2 linked regions of the Homo sapiens genome follow. The protein of the gene in region 1 interacts with the protein of each later gene in a biochemical or structural test. Each region holds a gene or a part of one and is shown in the gene's direction. Other genes may lie near its edges. The genes, in order: UPF1 and GSPT2.

The links.
Region 2: the proteins of UPF1 (region 1) and GSPT2 form a complex in vitro, tested with the Homo sapiens proteins (one study listed by BioGRID).

Annotation. Positions count from the first base shown.
Region 1 is NC_000019.10:18,862,884-18,866,081, forward strand, and holds part of UPF1 (regulator of nonsense transcripts 1), read left to right. Parts: intron 1-554; coding exon 555-729; intron 730-1,286; coding exon 1,287-1,368; intron 1,369-2,405; coding exon 2,406-2,567; intron 2,568-2,677; coding exon 2,678-2,895; intron 2,896-3,160; coding exon 3,161-3,198. UniProt on the Homo sapiens protein: RNA-dependent helicase required for nonsense-mediated decay (NMD) of aberrant mRNAs containing premature stop codons and modulates the expression level of normal mRNAs.
Region 2 is NC_000023.11:51,742,018-51,746,388, forward strand, and holds GSPT2 (eukaryotic peptide chain release factor GTP-binding subunit ERF3B), read left to right. Parts: upstream 1-1,424; 5' UTR 1,425-1,609; coding exon 1,610-3,496; 3' UTR 3,497-4,215; downstream 4,216-4,371. UniProt on the Homo sapiens protein: GTPase component of the eRF1-eRF3-GTP ternary complex, a ternary complex that mediates translation termination in response to the termination codons UAA, UAG and UGA.

The DNA of each region.
Region 1 (3,198 bases):
AAGTTGGGGGGACCTGGCCTGTGGCTCCACCCAGCACAGGGAGAGAGCCTGGTGCTCCTTCCGGCTCATATGCGCGGTGGTTCTCCTCTAGGTCACCATGGCTTTGTCATTGGTTACTCCCTCTTTCTAAGGCGCCCTCTTGTTTGGTGGGCAGTATTGGGTGGGTCCCCCCACAGCTTCGTGAGGTGGGCTAGAGGAGCTGGGCATCGGGTCAGTGCCCCGGCCTGCTGGGGGCCCTGTGGGGCCGCGTGTGCCCCGGTGCCTGGAAGGCCGACTCTCTTGACAGCAGGTCTTCTCTCCAAACGTATCCACCCAGCCAGGTGTCTGCCATGGGGCTGCTTAGAGTCGGCCACAAAATCAACCCGTGTGCAGGGTCAGTGGCTTGGCATTGGGCTTTGGGGCCTGTCCCTGTGGCTGGCAGCCTGCCTGCTGCCCGGTCCACGCCTCTGTTGCCTTGGATTTGGGTTCTGAGTGAATGCAGCCTTGCCTCTTGGACCGTCCTGTGAGACGGGCAGCTCTCCACCTGCGTCCTCAGCACTGCGCCCTTGTTGCAGGTATGGCGTCATCATTGTGGGCAACCCGAAGGCACTATCAAAGCAGCCGCTCTGGAACCACCTGCTGAACTACTATAAGGAGCAGAAGGTGCTGGTGGAGGGGCCGCTCAACAACCTGCGTGAGAGCCTCATGCAGTTCAGCAAGCCACGGAAGCTGGTCAACACTATCAACCCGGTGAGCGCCTGCACAGGACAGCAGGGCAGCACGGAGAAACCCGGGCCCAAAACACTGCTGGGAACGTGCCAGCTTGGCCCGTGTGCCCGTGAGCTGAGGGAGGGCTCTCCTAGGGGAGGGTGGGCTCTCCTAGGGGAGGGTGGGCCAGCCCACTTCTTGTCTCCCGAGCCGTGTGTGGCATTTTTGGCTTGGGGCCGCTAAGTCCTGGGTGGCCTCTGGGAATTGGGCTCAGGGCTGCTGTGCTGCATGCAGCAGCCTGGGACCTTGGACACGGGCAGTTGGAAGCTTTGCAAGCCCGGGGTGATCTGGTAGTGAGGGGGTGTGAAGCTTCCTGAGCTGAGGCCCAAGGGTCAGCATCAGAGCCCAGGTCTGCCGAGGAGGGCAGGCGAGACCCAGAGGCCATGAGACAGCAGCTCCCTCCTGTCTCCAGGGAGAGCCCCTGGCACAGTGTCAACACCTCACAGCTGCATACCTGCCACCTCCCAGGCCACCGGGCCCGTGGGAAGTTGTTCCTTCTGTTGAGATGACAAATTCCTCACCTATCTAAACCTTCGCAGGGAGCCCGCTTCATGACCACAGCCATGTATGATGCCCGGGAGGCCATCATCCCAGGCTCCGTCTATGATCGGAGCAGCCAGGGTGAGTCGCTCAGCAGGGGACCTGGCCGACCCCTTGTCCTCACACCGGGATGCTGGCCGTTCCCATGGCTGCAGCTTTAGGTGCCCCCATCTTTCCTTCCCCTCAAGGGCGGTGCCTGGCTCCCTTGGCCTCCCCGCCCCTAGGGCATCTCTAGCCCCGGAACACTCCTGGGGTGTTTGTCTTTAACCAGAGTTTATTCATTTGTGTTTCCTGGTGATCAAGCTAGTTAGCTTTTTCTTGCCTTTTGGTAGGGCAGGGACTGCATGTAGTACAAATAGAACATTTTCATAAAAAGGATTTTTTTTTTCCTTTGGTAAATGCAGGGTGATTTTCATTTATTTTCTTTTTTTTGTTTAGAGACAGGGTCTCCCTATGTTGTCCAGGCTGGTCTCAAACTCCTGCCTCAAGCAGTCCTTCTGCTCAGCCTCCCAAAGTGCTGGGATTACAGGCGTGAGTCACTGCACCTGGCCAATTTGCAGGTGTTTTTTTTTTTTTTTTTTTTTTTGGAGACCGAGTCTCGCTCTGTTGCCCAAGCTGGAGTACAGTGGTGTGATCTTGGCTCACTGCAACCTCCCCCTCTGGGTTCAAGCGATTCTCCTGCCTTGGCCTCCCGAGTAGCTGGGATTACAAGCACCCACCACCATGCCCGGCTAGTTTTTGTGTTTTTAGTAGAAACGAGGTTTCGCCATGTTGGCCTGGCTGGTCTCAAACTCCTGATCTCAGGTGGTCCACCTCGGCTTCCCAGAGTGCTGGGATTATAGGCTTGAGCCAACACGCCCGGCCCCAATTTTCAGTTTTTAAGATCTGTGTAGGCCAATGATTCCCAGCAGACTCTCCTCGGGGAAGGTGCCTGCCCAAGCACCCAGCCCCAGGCAGGCTGCTGTAGTTAACATGGAGTCCTGCGAATCCGCATCTTCAGCCTGGGCAGAGCCAGGACAGATGTGCAGCTCCGGCTGACTGGCTGGTGGGGTGGGTGGGGTATCGCTGGGGTTTGACCGAGGCAGGTGACACCTGCCGTGTTCCACTGTGATTTGCAGGCCGGCCTTCCAGCATGTACTTCCAGACCCATGACCAGATTGGCATGATCAGTGCCGGCCCTAGCCACGTGGCTGCCATGAACATTCCCATCCCCTTCAACCTGGTCATGCCACCCATGCCACCGCCTGGCTATTTTGGACAAGCCAACGGGCCTGCTGCAGGTGAGCATCTGTGGCTGCGGCTGGGTGTGGCCCTCCTGAGAGCTCTTGAGGGTGTGCTTGTCTGCGAGGCCCTGGCCTCCTTCGGATCACCCTGGACTGCTGTCTTTCAGGGCGAGGCACCCCGAAAGGCAAGACTGGTCGTGGGGGACGCCAGAAGAACCGCTTTGGGCTTCCTGGACCCAGCCAGACTAACCTCCCCAACAGCCAAGCCAGCCAGGATGTGGCGTCACAGCCCTTCTCTCAGGGCGCCCTGACGCAGGGCTACATCTCCATGAGCCAGCCTTCCCAGATGAGCCAGCCCGGCCTCTCCCAGCCGGAGCTGTCCCAGGTGAGCCCGCCCCTGGGACGGGACTTACCTGAGTGAGGGTGGGGCTATGCACCTGAAACATTCCCTCTGAAGAGCCCCAGAGAGCTGGCCTGGCCCATGTCCACTGTCTGAATTACCTGTCCCTGGGCTGGGGTCATCAGAGTGGGTCTCCTGGGTCTTAGTTTGGGGACGGGTTTTCCATTCTTTTCTCTGGGGCTGCTGAGGGCTGGGTGGATGTGAGCACCCTTGGCCTGTGGCTTGCTTACCTCCTGACCTTGTCTTTCAGGACAGTTACCTTGGTGACGAGTTTAAATCACAAATCGA
Region 2 (4,371 bases), on another chromosome or scaffold:
AATATATATTAAGAAAAATTAGCTGAGCTTGGTGGCGGACGCCTGTAATCCCAGCTACTCAGGAAGCTGAGGCAGGAGAATTGCTTGAACCCAGGAGGCAGAAGTTGCAGTGAGCTGAGATCATGCCACTGCACTCCAGCCTGGGCAACAAAAGTGAAACTTTGTCTCAAAATAAAAAAATAAATCCATCTATGTGACACCATCTTGTACTAAGCAGATTGTTTGGACTGAATAGTCTTTCTAGGTATGTCACAAAACCTGAATTCATAAAAGCAAAAGGTGACAGATTTGAGTACATGAAGACTAAAAACAGATTCAGAGAATAAGTTTGTATTTTCTATGTCAGTTTGCACTAAATTAATTTACAAACAAGGTCGCTGAGGCTTTGACTCAACTGTTAACACTTTCTGAGAGTGAGATTCTTTTGATTAGGGTCTTAAGGTCTTTGTTCATCTCAGAAGTCTTAATTGGTTTAATTAGGCTGACACCTACAGCCCTGTCTCATTACCATAAACTGTAGAGGGGTTCAACATGACACTGATTGTTTCTTAGAGCAAAGCCAGTGCAGTGAGTAGGATTCCAGGCCCCCCGGAATGAAGCAGGAAAACCCGAGGCCTGTGGATGCAGGATGTACTAGGGAGGTGCTGGGGAGTAGTGCAGATAAACCCAGAATTCAGTTGGTTGGTAAAACAAGAGTGATCTGAGTCCTGTGCTTGTCTACGTGATCCACCATTGAATGGCAGGCCAGCCATTGTGCAGGCATCTGCATATGAAGTGACTGGAAGCTTCACTGGAACAAGGATCTCCTTGGAAATTCTCTCCCCTCAGACAGCCAGGGTGCTTAACATGAAAAGAAGTTGTAACCCTATCCTTAAACTATAGAAGCCATCAGCAGAAGTTACAGGCTTATGGGGGCCCACTGGAAAGGGAAAATCAAAAGGCCTGTGGATTTCAAATTAATGAGTGATCTTAAGTTGCATTTCCTAAGTTCGGCTACAGACTCATATATTTCATGAGTCCCTCCCTACCCATTCCTTGCCTCTCCCTTCAGTTGCTGGGTTTCTGAATTTCTGTATAGTTAACCCTTATCTTGCCTCCCATTTGTTCAATAGAAATGATCACTTTTACTTGAATCTTTTGGTAGAATTGTATACCATGTGTTCCTGTCTAGGTTTAATCATCAGATTGTGGTCAAATTGCTCTGCCAGACTGTGTGAACAAAAAAGTGAATGGAAATTTTCGTTTTAAAAAATAATACTTTTGGACTTAGCCCGTGGCTAAGAAGAAGTAAGGAAGCCAAGCGTACGGATAGCAGCGAGGGGTCAATCCACGCCCGGCGTTGGGTCGGGGGTGGAGGAGTCGGAAGTGGTTGGGGTTTGGGGGAGGAGATCCGCTCACACACAAGAGGAGAGTGTTGAGCCGCCATATCTGCTGCTGCCGCCGCAGTTGCGAATGCAGCATCGGCGCTTAGCTGCCTCCGCGGTGCAGCTAAGGTTCGTGTCGCTACCCCTTGGCCCTTCGCTCTTGCTGCCTTAACCCCGCCGGCGGAGCCCGCTCTTCTGGCCTGTTGAGCCCGCTCCCTCACTGCCACACAGCAAGTTCCGAGACCATGGATTCGGGCAGCAGCAGCAGCGACTCGGCGCCCGATTGCTGGGACCAGGTGGACATGGAATCCCCGGGGTCGGCCCCGAGCGGGGATGGAGTCTCCTCTGCGGTGGCCGAGGCCCAGCGCGAGCCCCTCAGCTCGGCTTTCAGCCGTAAGCTCAACGTCAACGCCAAGCCCTTCGTGCCTAACGTACACGCCGCGGAGTTCGTGCCGTCCTTCCTGCGGGGCCCGACTCAGCCGCCCACCCTCCCGGCCGGCTCCGGCAGCAACGATGAAACCTGCACCGGCGCGGGATACCCTCAAGGTAAAAGGATGGGACGGGGGGCACCTGTGGAACCTTCCCGAGAGGAACCGTTAGTGTCGCTTGAAGGTTCCAATTCAGCCGTTACCATGGAACTTTCAGAACCTGTTGTAGAAAATGGAGAGGTGGAAATGGCCCTAGAAGAATCATGGGAGCACAGTAAAGAAGTAAGTGAAGCCGAGCCTGGGGGTGGTTCCTCGGGAGATTCAGGGCCCCCAGAAGAAAGTGGCCAGGAAATGATGGAGGAAAAAGAGGAAATAAGAAAATCCAAATCTGTGATCGTACCCTCAGGTGCACCTAAGAAAGAACACGTAAATGTAGTATTCATTGGCCATGTAGACGCTGGCAAGTCAACCATCGGAGGACAGATAATGTTTTTGACTGGAATGGTTGACAAAAGAACACTGGAGAAATATGAAAGAGAAGCTAAGGAAAAAAACAGAGAAACCTGGTATTTGTCCTGGGCCTTAGATACAAATCAGGAGGAACGAGACAAGGGTAAAACAGTCGAAGTGGGTCGTGCCTATTTTGAAACAGAAAGGAAACATTTCACAATTTTAGATGCCCCTGGCCACAAGAGTTTTGTCCCAAATATGATTGGTGGTGCTTCTCAAGCTGATTTGGCTGTGCTGGTCATCTCTGCCAGGAAAGGAGAGTTTGAAACTGGATTTGAAAAAGGTGGACAGACAAGAGAACATGCGATGTTGGCAAAAACGGCAGGGGTAAAACATTTAATAGTGCTTATTAATAAGATGGATGATCCCACAGTAAATTGGAGCATCGAGAGATATGAAGAATGTAAAGAAAAACTGGTGCCCTTTTTGAAAAAAGTAGGCTTCAGTCCAAAAAAGGACATTCACTTTATGCCCTGCTCAGGACTGACCGGAGCAAATATTAAAGAGCAGTCAGATTTCTGCCCTTGGTACACTGGATTACCATTTATTCCGTATTTGGATAACTTGCCAAACTTCAACAGATCAATTGATGGACCAATAAGACTGCCAATTGTGGATAAGTACAAAGATATGGGCACTGTGGTCCTGGGAAAGCTGGAATCCGGGTCCATTTTTAAAGGCCAGCAGCTCGTGATGATGCCAAACAAGCACAATGTAGAAGTTCTTGGAATACTTTCTGATGATACTGAAACTGATTTTGTAGCCCCAGGTGAAAACCTCAAAATCAGACTGAAGGGAATTGAAGAAGAAGAGATTCTTCCAGGATTCATACTTTGTGATCCTAGTAACCTCTGCCATTCTGGACGCACGTTTGATGTTCAGATAGTGATTATTGAGCACAAATCCATCATCTGCCCAGGTTATAATGCGGTGCTGCACATTCATACTTGTATTGAGGAAGTTGAGATAACAGCGTTAATCTCCTTGGTAGACAAAAAATCAGGAGAAAAAAGTAAGACACGACCCCGCTTCGTGAAACAAGATCAAGTATGCATTGCTCGTTTAAGGACAGCAGGAACCATCTGCCTCGAGACGTTCAAAGATTTTCCTCAGATGGGTCGTTTTACTTTAAGAGATGAGGGTAAGACCATTGCAATTGGAAAAGTTCTGAAATTGGTCCCAGAGAAGGACTAAGCAATTTTCTTGATGCCTCTGCAAGATACTGTGAGGAGAATTGACAGCAAAAGTTCACCACCTACTCTTATTTACTGCCCATTGATTGACTTTTCTTCATATTTTGCAAAGAGAAATTTCACAGCAAAAATTCATGTTTTGTCAGCTTTCTCATGTTGAGATCTGTTATGTCACTGATGAATTTACCCTCAAGTTTCCTTCCTCTGTACCACTCTGCTTCCTTGGACAATATCAGTAATAGCTTTGTAAGTGATGTGGACGTAATTGCCTACAGTAATGAAAAATTAATGTACTTTAATTTTTCATTTTCTTTTAGGATATTTAGACCACCCTTGTTCCACGCAAACCAGAGTGTGTCAGTGTTTGTGTGTGTGTTAAAATGATAACTAACATGTGAATAAAATACTCCATTTGAAACTCTTCGGTTATTTGAAATGCTTTTGAATAATGTTTAAATGTCATTATGTAATGCTATTCAATTAGCTTTATTACTTTCTCAAATAGTTGAATATGTTCTATCACTTAAAAACTTAAAAACTCTTCACCACTTACTGTTTTAAGTGAGGAATTTACAAACAATGCATAAGTGTGTATTAAAGGAATAATTTTAATTTTGAGAAAAAAACGTATGTTAAGGCTCTTCCCAGTGGGCTTTGTTTTCTCTGTCCAAGTCCAGTCAATAAAGGAGCTCTTCTGCTTCCCCACTTGTGATTTGAAAATGAAAGGCTCAGGCCGTCTTTATTTGTATAGCAGTAGTTCATGTAACATTATCCATAGGTTCTTGAAGACTACAACATTAAGCAAAACAATGTACAGCAGGTGTACATCGTACAACAATGCACAATGTATGACATTGTTCAATGTTGTTATGACAT